Linked DNA regions of Homo sapiens: region 2 is linked to region 1. Evidence: fine-mapped expression QTL. Tissue or cell type: esophagus muscle. Region 1 holds a variant in brackets; the other region holds the start of a gene. All regions are shown on one strand. Distances are from middle to middle.

Region 1 (8,102 bases):
ACGGGGGCCTTTATCCCAGGAAAAATCCCTCATTCCCGGGAAGCTACCATTGCCAAAAATATGGCCTGACAGGCACCCGTCTGACAGGTGCTCCTCAAGCACCCATCCGCGGACACATGCTGAACCCATACGATGCTCTAAACGGGGCGTGCACACTGCAGCCCTCTCAGCACAGGGGCCATGCACCACCAGTTACCAGGATAATCCCTGTGGATGTCGGATTACAGCCTGCTGGGCTGGAGAAGTGGCTGCCCTCAGCAGGGCGCGTGCCTCCCCAGTCATCCCAGTCCCCCTCTGCAATGACAGAGCCCCAGGGAGCTGCAGAGAAGGGGATTTCTTCTTGCAAACAAAACCCCACAGGGAGCCCCAAGATCTAGCTCTAGTTTATTCCTCTATCCAGCAAGCATCAGTCAGACACCTTCTGCCTGCCAGGCCTGTGCCAGGACAAGGCGACACCAGACCCTGTCCTCCGGCCACATCAGGGAGGGGTTGGCGAACAAGGGAAGGAACAACAGGAAGGTGCCAGTGGAGAGGCCAGGCGCGTGCCATGGCGGTGGCAGTCCTCCTTCCTGCAGATCACCCAAAGCCAAACAGCAAGGAAATGCAGGCGCGGGGAAGCAAAGCCAGGAGCCCCTGATGCCCATGCTGTTAGCCACCCATCCACCTGGGTGCAGAAGATGCTCTCGGGGTTCACACTGAGAGACAGGCTGGAGCTGGGCGATGGCCCAAGTGAGTTCGGAACAGGCTGTGGGGCAGGGGCACTCCCACATCTCCAGCAGGGCTTAGAGAACAGGCAAAAGTGGATTCCGATCTCGGCAAGGCAGCGAGTATCCCCTCCTTGGAGGATAACCGAGCCTCTCTGGGGAACTCCTGGGGTGGTAGACGGGAGAGGAGATTTCTCACCGGAGGGGAGACCAGCCTGCTGTCCTGGGCTCGGGAGCAGCTGAAACTCCTTTTGGGGAATGCTCTTGGGAGCTGATTTATAAGGCACAGGAAGAGCCCCGTGTGGTGCAGCCCCACCCCGCTTGTGTCCAAACACAGCCTGTTGCTGTGGACACCCTCACCTCGCTCCTGGCCCAGGGAGGGGCGACTTGCCAGGGCACACAGAGCCCCCTACCAGGAGCCAGCCTGATCCCTGACCTCTGACCCTGGGAGCATGTGGGAGGTGCTGGCTGAGGAAGCAAAACTGCCAGTGTGGCGTCCATCACACTTTCCACATGTTTTAGCAGCAGGGTGTTTGTTTGTTTGTTTGTTTGTTTGTTTAAGAGACAGGGTCTGGCTCTGTTGCCCAGGCTGGAGTGCAGCGGTGCGAGCATGGCTCACTGCAGCCTTAAACTCCCGGGCTCAAGCGCTCCTCCTGCCTCAGCCTCCAGAGTAGCTAGGACTGTGGCATGTGCCTCCACAGCTGGCTTAGCAGCAGATTTTTTCTTGCAAACAAAACCTCACAGGGAGGAACTCCAGGTTAGAGAACTAGCTTATTCCTATACTAGCAAGCATCAGCCAAACACCTTCTACGTGTCAGGCCTGCACAGGACAAGGTGATACCAGGCCCCGTCCTCCGGCCACATCAGGGAGGGGTCAGTGAACAAGTCAAGGAGCGACGGGAAGATGCTGTGAGCATGGCCAGGCGCGTGCAGGGGCAGCGGCTGCTTCCCCTCCCTGCAGAACACACCACCTAAGAGAGACACTGCTCATAACTGGAGATCAGCAACATGCCCAGTTCACAGAGAGGGAAACAGAGGCACGTTGGGAGCAAGTAACTGCGGAGGGGGATCAGTTATAGAAGGAATGCAATGGGATGAGGCCCAGGTATCTACCCAAAAGAATTAAAAGCCAGGACTTGGCTGGGTGTGGTGGCTCACGCCTGTAATCCCAGCACTTTGGGAGGCCGAGGTGGGTGGATCACGAGGTCAGGGGTTCGAGACCAGCCTGACCAACATGGTGAAACCCTGTCTCTACTAAAAATACAAAAATTAGCTGGGCGTGGTGTTGGGCGCCTGTAGTCCCAGCTACTCAGGAGGCTGAGGCAGGGGAATTGCTTGAACCAGGGAGGCGGAGCTTGCATTGAGCCGAGATCGCGCCACTGCACTCCAGCCTGGGTGACAGAGCGAGACTCCATCTCAAAAAAAAAAAAAAAAAAAAAAGCCAGGACTCAAACAAAAACTTGTATGTGAACACGCGTAGCAGTGCTGTTCACAATGACCAAAGCCAGGAAACACTCAAATGTCCGTCAACCATCACTGGATGAACAGACAAAGAAAAGGTGGCACATCTCAGCAGTGGAATAGCATGCAGCCATGAAAAGGAAGGACACTCTGATCCAGGCTGCAGTGTGGACGATTCTTGAGAAAATGAGGCTGAGTGAAAGAAGCCAGACACGACAGACTGTATATCACATGATTCCATTTATACAAAATGCCCAGAGTGGGCACATCATAGAGATGAGCACAGATTGTTGGTTGCCAGGGCTCGGCGGGAGGAATGGGGTTTCCCATTTCGGGTGATGGAAATGTTTTGGAAGCAGAGGTGATGGGGCTCCACCCTGTGAATGAAGGCGGGTTGCATACTTTAACATGGTGAATTTTGTGTTATGTGCATTTTTTCCCGAATAAGAACAGGACGCCGCTGTGGAGGGGAGAGACCGCTCACGGGGACTGGATGGCCAGGAAGCCACTGCTGTGTGCCAGGCCCCTTCCAGGCTTGGGGTCATGCCCCCTCATATTAGGCATGGCCACCACCACTGACTGTGGTCCTTGGAATGCGAGTAGAAGAGATGAATGTGATGGACACTTCAGGGACAAAGCTTTTAGGAACTGGTGCCCTGTTCTTCCACTCTCCCCCACCACAGGGGACCTGAGGCCTTGTGTTGAGACAGCACCGGCTGCAGGCAATGGCGGAGCCTCTGTCATTCAGGTCCCCGAGCCACCAAGGAGCAAGAGACCCATCCCCCACCACACCGACCAGCAATTCATGGCGTGAGCGAGACCCACACCTCCATCAATAAGGCCACAGAAGAATCAGGGGTGTGTGTGGCTGCAGCAAACCCAGATGGTCCTGGCCACCCACCTGCCCTGAGGGGCCAACATTTGAGCTCGGCCCTCAATGAGGTGAGCAGTGACCGGCCTAAAGGAAGAATGCTCCTGGCCAAGGGAGGAGCAGCGCGAAGGCCCCACAGCAGATGTGTGCCTGGTGTGTTCAAGGACAGTCAGGGGCCGGCAGAACCCGCAGTGGGAGGCACAGGCTATGGGGTGAAGCACTGTGCTTCCTCATCAAGGGGTGGGAGCCCCTGACGGTTTTCAGCAGGGAGGGATGCAATCAGATGTGGGCTCTAGGAGGACACTCTGCCATGTGGACACTGGGTACTTTGAGAAGCAAGTGACAGAATCCCAGGCTTCCCAGTGAGGAAATTTAGGAACTCACATAACGGGAAGTGCAGAGGGACTGTGGGCTCCAGGACAGGGTGACCACACCCAGCTGTGCCTCTCTAAGATTTTCCCCACCATCATTCTCAGGCAGGTTCCCCTCATGCTCACAAAAAGGCTGCCTGTCTATCCGGGGACAGGAGGGAGCTCAGAACCCACAATAAGCCTCTGGTCACCTGTCATTGGCCCAAAGCTGGCTAGGCTAACCCACCCTAAACCAATCACTGGCCAGGAGGAAGGGTAGCCAATCTGTGATTGGTCAGCAGTGACAATATAAAAGCCTCACAACCCAGCCATACAGAAAAGGCTTTGGGAGCTCAGACCCTCAGAAAGCCCAGCTCCAGCACTATTCAACCACTCGCCATAACTCCCCACTGCCTATAGGGCAGAGCACAAACTCCTGAGTATGGTATTCTAGGCTCTGTGTCTCTAGATGATTTCACCCTTGCAATGACCCTGAGAAGTTAATATGATTACTCCCTTGAGAGATGAGGCAACCGAGGTATGGGGAAGTTAAGTAACGTGCCCAAGGTCACTCAGCCATCAGGTGGTGGTGGCAGGACTCACACTCAGGCAGTGGCCCAGAGCCTCCTCTGCCCACACCGCCAGCATCTGACCAGCCCCCTCCATGGACGGCCATGGTATTTCAAGCCGCTGCCTGAGGTTTTCCCTGCGGGTCCTGCCGTTCACTCCATGGCAGGCACGTTTGCTCCCTGGTCTTCACAGAAAACCAATTCGGGCGTCCCCCACTCAAAAAGCCTTCCTGGGCTCACTCCACTTAGCAGCCTGAGGCCTCGCCTCAGCACTTCCCCTGTCCTGAGTGACCTCCAAGGCCTCGCCTGTGGGAACGAGAACGAGGACGAGGCTGGGAACAGGGCGACCTGAGACACTGTGTGGAAAGGACGCCCTGAAACCCCCATGGTCCCTGCCCTGTCTCCAGCCTCCCTGCCGCACCTGCAGTTTCTGCTGATGGCCCCAGTGTAAACACACCAAGGCG[C/G]GGGGAGAAGAAGTGTCAGCCCAGCCTTAAACAAACCTGCTCAGCCGGAGATGGGGAGCAGGCTCGCAGGCAGCATGGGCTCTGGCTGGAGGGATTTGGATGGGATTTAAGCAGGACTTGGTTTACAGAGGGAAAAAATAATTATCTACAAGGCCTCGGATAAAGTAAAGCCCATTTGTTCCTGAGTGAATGAAGGAACACGTGGAAACTGACGATGTCTACCTGGGACTGGGCTCAGACAGTTACTCAATGTGAGCCCAACTGGAGGCTGGCCGTGGGAAACAAGTGGGCTGACCCCCTGTATCCACTCGAACCGGCATCTCAGTGTGTGCGCAAGAGCCAAAGGCCGGCTCAGGCACAGCCACCCTGGCAGCACATCAGAATCATGGCAGAGTCCTTAAAATGCTGTGACCGGCCGGGCACGGTGGCTCACGCCTGTAATCCCAGCACTTTGGGAGGCCGAGGCAGGCAGATCATGAGGTCAGGAGTTCGAGACCAGCCTGGCAAACATGGTGAAACCCTATCTCTACTAAAAATACAAAAATTAGCCAGGCATAGTAGCGGGCACCTGTAATTCCAGCTACTCAGGAGGCTGAGGCAGGAGAATTGCTTGAACCCTGGAGGCGGAGGTTGCAGTGAGCCAAGATCACGCCACTGCACTCCAGCCTGGGAGACAGAATGAGACTCTGTCTCGGAAAAAAAAAAAAAAAAAAGTGCTGATGACCAGGTCTCTGCCCAGACCATTAAAGTCAGCCTCCCTGGGCCAGGCCCGGATGTCTGTGTTTGATGGGAACTCCCGGTGATTCTGATGCACAGGCAGCCATGGGCACACACGGGCTCACTTGACCCCACACAGCCACGGACCAGACCCAAACCACAACTGTTGCCTCATTTACTCCTCACACGGCCCCAAACATTGCTGTCCTCACTATGCAGATGGGGAAACTGAGGCACAGGGAGGCTAAGTAACTGCTTCTGGTGGGAGGCGGTGGGGCCCGGGTTGAGATCCAAATTTGCCATCCCAAAATGTCCCCATCACCCCGTTGATGAGTCATTTTTTGTTGCCTCCTCCCTCAGATCAGGGTCCCCAGGGCAGATACTGTCCTCATCAGACCTGCAGTCCTCAAGGCTGTGTCCTGCCTCCTGACTTGCTCCACAGGCGCCTGTGGGGAAGGGGCTGTGTGCTGGCATGGGTGGTCCTGGGTCTGAGTCCGGACTCTGCCCCCTGCCAGCTAGGTGGTCGGGGGTCCGCATCCCACGCCTCTGAGCTACAACCCCTGGGCCCCTTGGTAAGGGCTGGGTCCTGGCAGGCTTCAGGGTGGGGCGGGGGCTGGTTCCTGGGTCTGGGACTCTGGGGGAGGCAGCTCTGGTGGGCAGGGAGGTGTTTCACCCCTGCCCTGCCCCTGCCCAGGTGGAGGACATGACACATTAAGTATTCCCCCGGACGGTGGACAGTGCTGGGAGGCTTCCCTCACCCTGCCTGGCAGTCCCAACCAGATGGACCCAAATGCAGAGTGAGGAAGTGCAGAGCCCATGGCCCAGCTCCCAGCAGGAAGAACACTGAGCCAGGGGCAGCCTGGCCCTGAACACTTGTGGGACTTTGGCAATTACTATGCCTCTGGGCTTCAGGTTCTTCATGGATAAATTAAGGAGTCTGGACCCAATCCAGTCGGGGCCATGTTGCCTGCTCTGCTGGTCCACTGGGCCGGTTGCCCAGAGGGCCGGGGAGGGGGTGTCCATCCAGGCTCCTGGGGAGCAAGAGCCTCATTGATTGGTGACGCCTGCCCAGGACCAGCCAGGGATGAGGCAGGCGTGCGCCAGGGCTTCTCTCCTCCTGTCACCCTGCACCCACAACCTGGGAAGGGAAGTTGGCATTAAGCTACACATTTCTGCCTCTACTGATGTACAGGCCTGATGGTGATATGCAAGTGACTGAACAATTAGAGAGCAGAGGGGTTTCTGTATTAAAATTTTTAAATAAATTAATAATAAATACAAATCAGTGGAAAGAAGAAATTAACAGTCACCTGCTTTCTCCCGCCCAGAACTAATCCTTGCTAATGTCCTGCGAGGGTTGCTTCCAGTCACTCCAGGCAACTTTTTGCTGTTCTTTAAGGAAGAAAAGGACGTATGTTTATAGAACGGCACGAGCTCACCGTAAAGATGTCAAACACGGCCAGGATGTACAAAGGTGAAGGATGAAAGCCACCGGGACGCTGCTGCCTGGAACTAACCCCACACGGTGGTGGCCGGCCCCCCGGCAGCCTTCTCTGCCAGGGTCCTGGAGAAGGACAGATAGACACATGGTCAGCTGGACAAGTGAGGCGGATCTTCCACAATCCATTTCTCTTTGGATGTTGATGGGGCTCATCTGAGGCCCATCCCAGTCTCTCTGACAGAAATCTGCCCCTGAAGGAGGGTCTGGGGCATGGGGGCAGAGAAGCCCTTCCCAACAGCTGACCTGGCTCTAACTCTCCAACTCTCAGCGTGGCTTTGGGGGCTGCCTGCCCCATCTGCACTGAACGGGGCCGGACCACACCGTGGTTCTAACCCACGTGGGTTTTCAGACCCTTCACAGTCCCAATGGACCCTCATGGCACACACATGGGCAGTTGCACACACACAAAGTCTAGGGGTTCGTGAAGCCATTGGAGCTGCCCAGGACCCCAGATCCAAAACTCTGAATCAAAGGATGTTGCCCCCCCACCCACCCCAGCTAAAGGGACGAAAGATTCTAAGAGCTTCCTCTTGGAGAATATTTTCAAATGACCTGACTGTCCACCTGTCCCACACACAGGTGTCTGGTAGAAACAGAGGCTGGACTGGTGGCCAGGACCCCAGGGTCTTTGCTGGGTCTGAGAGGGCCACACCCCCTTCCCTACCCATGACCATGCCCAGTCTGCCCACTCCCCAGACACCCACAGGCGGGACACAGCAACCATCTGCTTCTAGACACGATCCCTCAGTAGCCCATCCCCAGCTGTCCTGCCCCTGCCCGCAGTGATAGGAGGCCCCACCCAGAACTGGCCTTTAGCCGTGACTCCCGCCTGAGACCTGCTGCCCCTCCCACCACCCACCAGTGGGGTCTCTCCTCCCTCCCCTCCAGGAAGCCCCACCTGCTCCTCCACCGACCGCCAACCTTAATCCCACCTGCCACACCAAGCAGGGCCTTTGGAGACGGGGCTCCCCCAGGTCTGGCTGGGGTCTGCAGAGTTTCTCACTTGCAGCCCTTGCACCCCATGGCCGGCCCTTGTGAGGAACAGCACAAGGTGGCTCCGTGCCCTGCTGCGGGGCCACTGTCATGAAGATACTGCCGTCACCACCATCGCTATCATGACGGCCAATTGTCCCTTTGTGTTTGTGGATCTGCTACCTAGTTTCCTGCCAGGCTCAAGGCTCTCACGCCCCCCACAGAGAAGGGCCTGAGTCGCAGGGTCAGGGAAGGCGCCCAGTCTGGGCACAAGGCTCATTTCCTGAGAGCAGGGTGGGGGGCGGGGGGAGTGGGGACTGGAGCCCAGAGTCCAGCTCATCAGAGGGAACACAGGGCCCAAAATCCAGACGTTCACCATGACCCTCTTCAAAAGCAGAGGCCCGAGCAGGATGGGAACCGGGGAGCTGGCCATCCAAAAGCACCCCGGCCATGGGCAGCCACCCTGCAGCCTGAGAACGTGCTTGCCCTACCC
Region 2 (8,102 bases), 40 kb after region 1:
CCAGCCTGAGGGAAGGGGCTCCCACTGTGTCTGTGTGGGAGCCCTTGGGAGACGATGCTGGCCCAGCAGGGTGGGTTCTGGGCCTGTGGGGGAAGGTGGAGATGCCACACCTGAGAGCCAGCCCAGGGGTCCGTGGGGCCACAGGTGCAGGGGAAGGTGGACAGGACGAGTGGTCAGATACACTGCCCACCCCTAGGGCCTACCTGAGCCCATGCTAGGTACGTAGTGGGGCTGTGTTTGCGGGGCTGGGACCAAATCCCAGGTCCAGCCCTTGACTGTTGTGTGACCTTGGAGCAGGTGAGTTCACCTCTGTAAGCCTGTTTGCTCCTTAGTAAAACAGCCATACTCACGCTAAATTCTTGGGTGGTTGAGATGAAATTGTGGGAAAGGGACAAGGCATTCAACTTAGCACCACACACAGCCCATCTATCATTCAGCAAGCATTTATTGAGCACCTACTATAAGCCTTGGCATGGAATCAGGATGAATGAGGGACAATCCCTGCCCTCAAGGAGCCCGCAGCTGCAATCCCGGGCAGTGAGGGCCTGTCGGAAATGTAAGCTGGGCTCAACTGCCTGCTAGAGAGGTGGGGAAGGCTTTCCGGAGGAAGTGACATTTAGCTGGGTTTTGAAGGATGCGTAGGAGTTTGCATCTGGAAGGGCATCTGCTGCAGCAGGAACTGTCGGGGCAGAAGTGGAGATGCGGCTGTGTAGTGGAAGCACAGAGGCACAGGGGTCACAGGGCCTGGCCGGCTGGCAGAGGAACCTCAGGAAGGTCACCTCCCCTCTCTGGGCCGCAGTTTCCCTGTCTCTAAATGAGGATAAGCGCGCCCGCCTCCCAAATGGGACAGTGGCTGTGGCAAGCGCGGGGTGAATGCTAATGTTCCCTATTTAATTTTCCATGTTCTGTTTTGAGGCCAGTCAGGGTTATTTCTGTCCACACTCAACTATTTCCAGGCCCAGAGTCCTCCTTTCCCACAGAGGACAGCGCTGGGCCTGCCCCAGCCCACTATCTACTCCCAGGCCGTGGTGGGAGGCCAAGGGCAGGGGGCACCTGGAGAAGAAATGCAGACTCAGGATGGATCAGAGGCAGGGTGGGGACCCAGCCACCCCAGGAAGCCCAGGGCTCCAAGGGCCCCGTTTGGTGTGCCCAAGGCCGAGCAGCCCAGTTCCAAGCCCCTTTTCCAGGTGAGGTGGGACGGAGGCTCCCATGTAGTCAGGGGAAGAGAGCAGAAGCATTTACCACACCCCCCAGGACTGCCCCGCTGCTGCCCGGCCTGCCCAGGCGAGGAATCTCCCCATCCCCACAGCCACAGCCTGGTGTGCCCCACCCGGCCTCCTCCCTGTTCTCTCAGCTTCCCGGTTCCCACCATCACCCCCATTCTGGCCCAAGGGGCTGACCCTGGGGTGTGACATCAGGGAAGACAAGAGGTGGGGTTAGGGCGCTGCCTGACCTCCTACAAAACAAGCTGCCTTCCTGGTAGCCCTGGGCAGCTGGCCCAGGGATGGCCCATGGGGGCCCCGCCCTCCAGCCAGGTTACCTGCTGCTGGCCAAGAAGCTGGGGTGCTCTGGGCTGCCTCCCTGTCCCTTCTGCAAAGCCCCTGATCCCCACAACCTCTCTCCCACCCTGAGAGCCTGCCGGGGGTTCCTTCCTGGCCATCCCTGGGCTCAGCCTCCTTGTCGTGGGGCACAGGATTGGGTGGCAGGAAAGAACAGGGGGGGCTGGGGCTGGGGCACAAGGGGGGCAGGGAAGAGACACAGAGTGGAAGGTGGGGAGGGACAGGCACAGCTGGAGACGACAGTGTGTGGGGGCTCCGGGCAAACACATCTCACCTCCAGCCCGTTCTGAGCAATCCATCAGTGTGGCTGCCCCTGGAACGTGCGGGGGCACCAAGGCGGAGTTGCAGAGGCTGTTACTGATATGTGTCGTGGGGTGAGTCGGGGTGGGGGACGCATATCCCCACTCAGAACTCTGCATCGTAGATCCCATGCGTCTTGACACCTTCGTCTGCTAACATCTAGAAACCTTAGCATTTGAGAACCTTCAGATCCAAGGGTTCTGAGAGCTTAGAATTGTAGGATTTGTGAATTCTAGAAACAAAGGCAAGAAGATCACCCGTAGGGTGTCTCCTCTGCTCATGCAGCCTGGAGGGACCTCTCGGTGATCCCCGGCCGACCCCTCCCCAGCACTCAGCCCAAGAACCAGCCTCAACCACCTCCCTTCCCAGCTCAGCCTCACCTGCTGCCCAACCTGCAATACCTCCTCCCATCTCCCATCCTCAGACAGCCCATCCCTCCTGCAAGGTCCAGTCCGAAGTCGTCACCTCCCCCAGGAGGCCCACCCGTCCTCCTCAGCCCAGCCTGACTCTCAGGATCAGGCTCACCCTGCGGAGGCTGAAGCCACCAAGTCATAGTCCCAGTCCCAAGGGGAAGACAGGCCTGGAGCAGGGAGAGGTGTGGGCAAGAACACAGCCTCCGTCCCACAAAGAGGAGTTCAAACCCCCGCTCCAGCCCAAATGGCCCGGGCAGTGCCCTCACTCGTCTGCTTCAGCAGCCTCACCCGACTACTCACGATGGCTGCAGGTGGAAACTGCCCACGCATCTCTCAGCAGCTGAAAGGATGACTCCACAGTGGACGATTACTCAGGTGTAAAAAGGAGCAAAGCACTGGCACATGCGATAATGCGGAGGGACCTGAAGCCACCGTGCTAAGTGAAAGAAGCCAGACACGAAAGGCCACATGGTGCTCACACCTCCAGAGATGTCCAGAACAGGCAAAGCCAGAGACAGAGCACAGACGTGCTAGCCAGGGCTGGCTTCCTTGGAGGCTCCCAAGGAGAATCTGTTTCCCTGCCTTTCCAGCCCCTGGGGGCCCCCCTGGACTCCATGGCTATGGCGGCGGGTGCCAAGGCCCTGCAGCAGGGCACGACCACCAGGACCCATTGGGAATTGGCATCTGACTCCCTTCCACCACCCCGGGTGCCCCCACTTAGGAAGAGCCGACTCTCAGCAACTGTGCCCAGAGTGGCCTGGCCCATCAACCATGTGCCCCCTCAGCCTTCCTGCAGCCATTCAGAGACAGCAGTAAACACTCCTCCATCCCAGTGTGTGGGCCCAAAGCTGAGATCCCAGCCCAGGTCTCCCAGCTCACAGCCCTGCCCAGGGCCATCCTCCTGCTAGACGTCACCACATCAATGAGCATCTACCCCGTGCAAGGAAGAGGCCGGCGATGGGGTCCAGGTGAGGGGACAGCCAAGCCCACCAGGCGGTGGCCTTCCCTCACCTGCCCATTCTGGGCTAGGTCAGCTCTACCTGGAGCCTGAGCCCAGGCCCCTCCAGTGCCCTCTGCTGACTGCAGCAGACTGACCACCCTGGAGACCCTCCTGCCCCTGCCCCGAGACCCTCCATGCCACCCTGCCTCCAACCTCTGTCTTCTGCCCCCATTGCCCCTTCATGGTCCTGCAGGCCGCCCATGCTCTGTAAATCCAGCCCACCTGGGCACCCCGTGAGACCTCGGACCCGTCACATCCTGGTCCCTCCTCTTCCCCCACCCCCACATCCGACTGGCACTCCCTTTGGGCAGCTCCATCCGGTGGTGTCCTCTCTGAGTCCCAGGGCCTGCATCGGGTGGTGTCCTCTCTGAGTCCCAGGGCCTGGCACTCAGCAGGCCCTGGGGACATCAACCAGGGGCCCTTGAAGCTGTGTCCCTGGACACAGTTTCCCTGCCCCAAGCCCTGGCACATTCGGCCCAGGCTTGGCAAAAACTCCTTGTCCTCCAAGGACTCGGCTGCACCAGCCACTCAAATAAATTGATGTTCCCATCTCTGCTGACTCATGGATGAGAACATCGGGGCTCCTGCCAATGGCCACACACACCCCCAGCCCCACCAGGGAATAGCCCTGCACCCTGCAGGGACAATGTCATGAGCCTGAGAAGCCACCAGCTTCCCCTACTCCGTGAGCACCAAACTCCAGCCTGCTTGAGCTGTTGGGGGCCCCCTGCCTTGGCACTGTTCCTAATAGAGCCTGGGATCTTGTTTGAGCCCTACAAGGAAGCAAGGACCCCAGGCATCATCTTACAAACAAGGAAACTGAGGCTTGGGGAGGGGAGGAGCTTGTGGGTCCAAGTTCCCTGCCGGCTGTAACACTGTAGGAGTCAGAACCTGGCCAATGCCTGGAGGGGGCTTCCTTGGCCAGGGCTGAGCCTCAGGCTGCCCCCACCCCATCTCTCCCCCACTCCCATTGCATATGGAAACCAGAAAATCAATCCTAAGACCCCCAGCCAAACGAACGGACCCTCGTCTTGGCTAAGGACATTCCAAAGTGAACCTGAAAAGCGAGTTCAGGCCACGGTGGGAAGCGGGAGACGGACATACCTTGTTATCCCCCCTCCCTTTTGGAATGACTGGCAGAACAGTCTTTCAGTCTGATAATAAACATCTCCCATCCATTCTCTCTGCAGTCTGCTGCCTGGAGGCTTCATCTGCATGATGAAACCTCGGTCTGCACAACCCATTATCTTAACCCAGACATTCCTATCTACCGACAATAACTCTTTCAACCAACGGCCAATCAGAAAATCTTCGAATCCACCTATGACCTGGAAGCATCCCCGCTTCCGGTGGTTCCGCCTTTCTAGGCGTAACCAATGTACAGCTTATGTGTATTGATTGATGCCTTGTGTCCCCCTAAAATGTATGAAACCTAGCTGTGGCCCGACCACCTTGAACACATGGTCTGAGGGTCTCCTGGGGCTGTCATGGGCCCCCGGCCATTCATCTTTGGCTCAGAATAAATGTCTCAAACACTTTACGGAGTTTGACTTTTTGTTGATATATACGTCCAGGGAGGCCTCACTGCAGACTTACTGGGCCGCAGGGGCCTCAAGGACCAATATGGCCCCTCCTCTTGGAACAGACGGCCCCAAGCCAAGAGGACTTGGGGACCCTGTGGCCCAAACGGGTCATTTCACAGAATGGGAGACGGAGGCCCACACGGGGAATGGAGGAGAGCGAGGTGGAGCAAGGCCCTTCCCAGCCCTGGGCGGCCCCTTGACCCTTTTGTTCCCCCTCGCTGCCAGGCCTGTGACTGGGTGGGCCTGGGTCTGCAGCCCTACGGGGACTGGAGGGACAGCTGAGTGAGCAGAAGGTGCCTTGTGGCCAAGGCACAGAGGCGTCAGGGCCCAGCTGTGTTCAGCAGGAAGAAGGTCTGTGAGTGGAATATGGGGGTGCAGCGGGGTGGGGGGCGGCCAGCCTGCAGCTCAGATGCTGCGCTGGGGCTCCGGCCGTGACCACGCTCAGCCTCTGTGTCCTCCCCGGTAAAGTGGGAGGAATCGCCTTCCACACAGGACTCGGGGCTGGGTGAGGGCTGGGCGGCCACCACCACCTGCCCTGGGGCAGCAGGAGCTGCAAAGCCAGGCTCAAGGCCTGGGGGAAGGAACCCGGCGCTGGGTGCCCAGAGTCCAGATGAGATGGGTTTGGGGGGAAGGAACCCGGTGCTGGGCGCCCAGGGCCCACATGAGTTGGGTGTCGGAGGAAGGCAACCCCACCCAGGCCACCCCAGCCAGGGCTCAGGGACTTTGCCCACATGTTACCCTCTGGATCTTTCGGAACATTCTGCTGAATAAAAACTGGATTTAAAAAAGAGGCCAGGCACGGTGGCTCATGCTTGTAATCCTAGCACTTTGGGAGGCCAAGGTGGGCAGATCACTTGAGGTCAGGAGTTCAAGACCAGCCTGACCAACATGGTGAAAACATGTCTTTACTAAAAATACAAAAATTAGCCAGGTGTGGTGGCACATGCGTGTAATTCCAGCTACTTGGGAGGCTGAGGCAGGAGAATCACTTGAAATCTGGAGGCAGAGGTTGCAGTGAGCTGAGATTGCGCCACTGCACTCCAGCTTGGGCAACAGAGTGAGACTCCATCTCAAAAAATAATGAAAAATAAAAAAGGTATATTCTATGAAACTCTATTTGGGGTGTGATCTCGTTTTTAACAAGTATTTAAGAAGTAGGCTGGTGCAAGGTGTTTCTAAATGCTTCACAGTGTTATCTCTAGCAAACATTTCATCTGACGGTCTTTTGAATGAGGAGCTCCTGAACGTTCGGCAGAGGAGGTGGAACAGAAGAGAGAGGGCAGGCAGGGGCGTCTCCCTTCTTATCAAGGTATGACTAAGGGCACAACCTTATTTCCAAACAGAACAGTGGACAAACCGGGAAAGGGAGAGTCTGGAGAGATGAAGCGATACTATTAGTGCGGCTGACATGTCAATCACGGGGCTGGCACCGTTCACAGCTCTGAGGCTGCTGGATCTTTCCTGCCTCTCACCTCTGCTCTGCTCAGGCAAGCCTAGCCAGGCAGGGACTGGAGTTGGGGGCTGTTTTCCAGTTCACAGAGGAAGTCACAAGGCCCTAGGACACTCAGGGCCTTGGGAAAGCCAGCCAAGGACCAGAACAGATGTTTCGGCCTGACAGCACCTACTCTTGGGTTAAGCATCACCCTCGGTTTGAAAAATAGAAGTGAGGCCAGGAGTGGCTCACACCTGTAACCCCAGCACTTTGGGAAGCCAAGGCGGGCAGATCACTTGAGGTCAGGAGTTCAAGACCAGCCTGGCCAACATAGTGAAACCCTGTCTCTACTAAAAATACAAAAATTAGCCGGGCGTGGTGGCCGGCACCTGTAATCCCAGCTATTTGGGAGGCTGAGGCTGGAGAATTGCTTGAACCCAGGAGGCAGAGGTTGCAGTGGGCTGAGATTGCACCACTGCACTCCAGCCTGGGCGACAGAGCAAGACCCTGTCTCGATAAATAAATAAATAAAATTTTAAAAATAATAAAAAAAAAACAGGCTAGGCACGGTGGCTCATGCCTGTAATTCTAGCACTTTGGGAGGCCACGGTGGGCGGATCACTCAAGGTCAGGAGTTCAAAACCAGCCTGGCCAACATGGTGAAACCCTGTCTCTACTAAAAATACAAAAAATTAGCTGGGCGTGGAGGCGCACACCTGTAGTCCCAGCTACTCAGGAGGCTGAGGCAGGAGAATCTCTTGAACCTGGGAGGTGGAGGTTGCAGTGAGCTGAGATCGTGCCACTGCACTCCAGCCTGGGTGACACAGCGAGATCCCATCTTAAATAATAATAACAATAATAAAACAGAAGTGGGTAGGGCACGGTGGTTGACACATGTAATCCCAGTGCTTTGGGAGGCTGAGGCAGGCAGATCACTTGAGCCCAGGAGTTCAAGATTAGCCTGAGAAACATAGTGAGACCCCGTCTCTACAAAAATAAGTAAATAAATTAGCCAGGCATAGTGGTGCCCACCCATAGACCCAGCTACTCAGGGGCCTGAGGCGGGACGATTGCTTGAGCCTAGGAGTTCAAGACCAACCTGGGCAACATAGGAGACTTTGTCTCTATAAATAATTTTTAAAAATTAGCCAGGCCTAGTGGTACACCCCTGTAGTACCAGCTACTCAGCAGGCTGAGGCGGGAGGATTGCTGGAGCCCAGGATGTTGAGGCAGCAGTGAGCTGTGATCATGCCACCGCACTCCAGCCTGGGCAACAGAGCAAGATCCTGTCTCTAAAAAGAAAAAAAAAGAAGTATTCGTAGGAGGATCACAGAAGACCCCCAACACCCTGGTGATGTCACCCTGAAGTCCAGGAGAGCCGAGGCTGAAGTCTCGAGGGGAAGGACCCGGCCTCGATTGGGCCGCAGCCTCGGCGCTGGAGCCAGGTCTAAGACACTGCTCTCTATCACGCTGGGTTCCCCCTGCGGTGCTGCACGGCGTGGGCTGGGCACCCCCTCTGGGATCAGTTTGCTCCCTGCAGGATGACAGGGTGGGCAGGGACATGTATGGGACTCACCACCCACAGCAGGGACCCAGGTCCTTCCCCGTCTGGCTGGGGTCAGCCTGGGAGGGGCAGGGTTCCGCCTGCCTGATGCATTGCCTCCTGCTCACCACCCCCAAGCAACACTCCGGTCACTTCTTACTTCCATACCAGGTCTTCGCACTTGCTATTCCCTCTGTTTCCCATGCCTTTCCTCAGGAGAGCTCCTATGCCTCCCACACACAGCTGGGCCGCCGTGTGGTCTGGGAAGCTGT

Which allele goes with the higher level. Positions count from the first base shown, and alleles are read on the strand shown. Sizes are in standard deviations (SD) of each study's normalised expression.
In carriers of allele C in region 1, the expression in esophagus muscle of the gene that starts at base 4,500 in region 2 tends to be higher than with G alone (moderate effect, 0.53 SD a copy in GTEx).

Evidence for each region. PIP is the estimated chance that this variant, and not a neighbour inherited with it, causes the effect.
Region 2: it holds the start of LINC01300, and the variant in region 1 is fine-mapped to the expression of LINC01300 in esophagus muscle (GTEx, PIP above 0.99). The same link has a PIP of 0.9 or more in gastroesophageal junction.

Annotation. Positions count from the first base shown.
Region 1 is chr8:141,376,520-141,384,621 of GRCh38, reverse strand. LOC101928037 (a long non-coding RNA gene) reads right to left here. Exons shown (of 3, transcript XR_007061125.1): 2 at 6,576-6,700; 3 at 2,313-2,542. Among named protein-coding and RNA genes, the nearest start is that of PTP4A3, 11 kb to the left of the region's middle. RefSeq lists enhancers at 1-499, 7,293-8,067, 8,068-8,102. The variant C/G (reference allele first, on the strand shown) is at 4,420.
Region 2 is chr8:141,336,947-141,345,048 of GRCh38, reverse strand. LINC01300 (long intergenic non-protein coding RNA 1300) reads right to left here and starts at 4,500. Exons shown (of 4, transcript NR_024441.1): 1 at 4,377-4,500; 2 at 2,573-2,708; 3 at 1,834-2,091; 4 at 428-705. RefSeq lists an enhancer at 2,376-2,876 and a silencer at 6,025-6,319.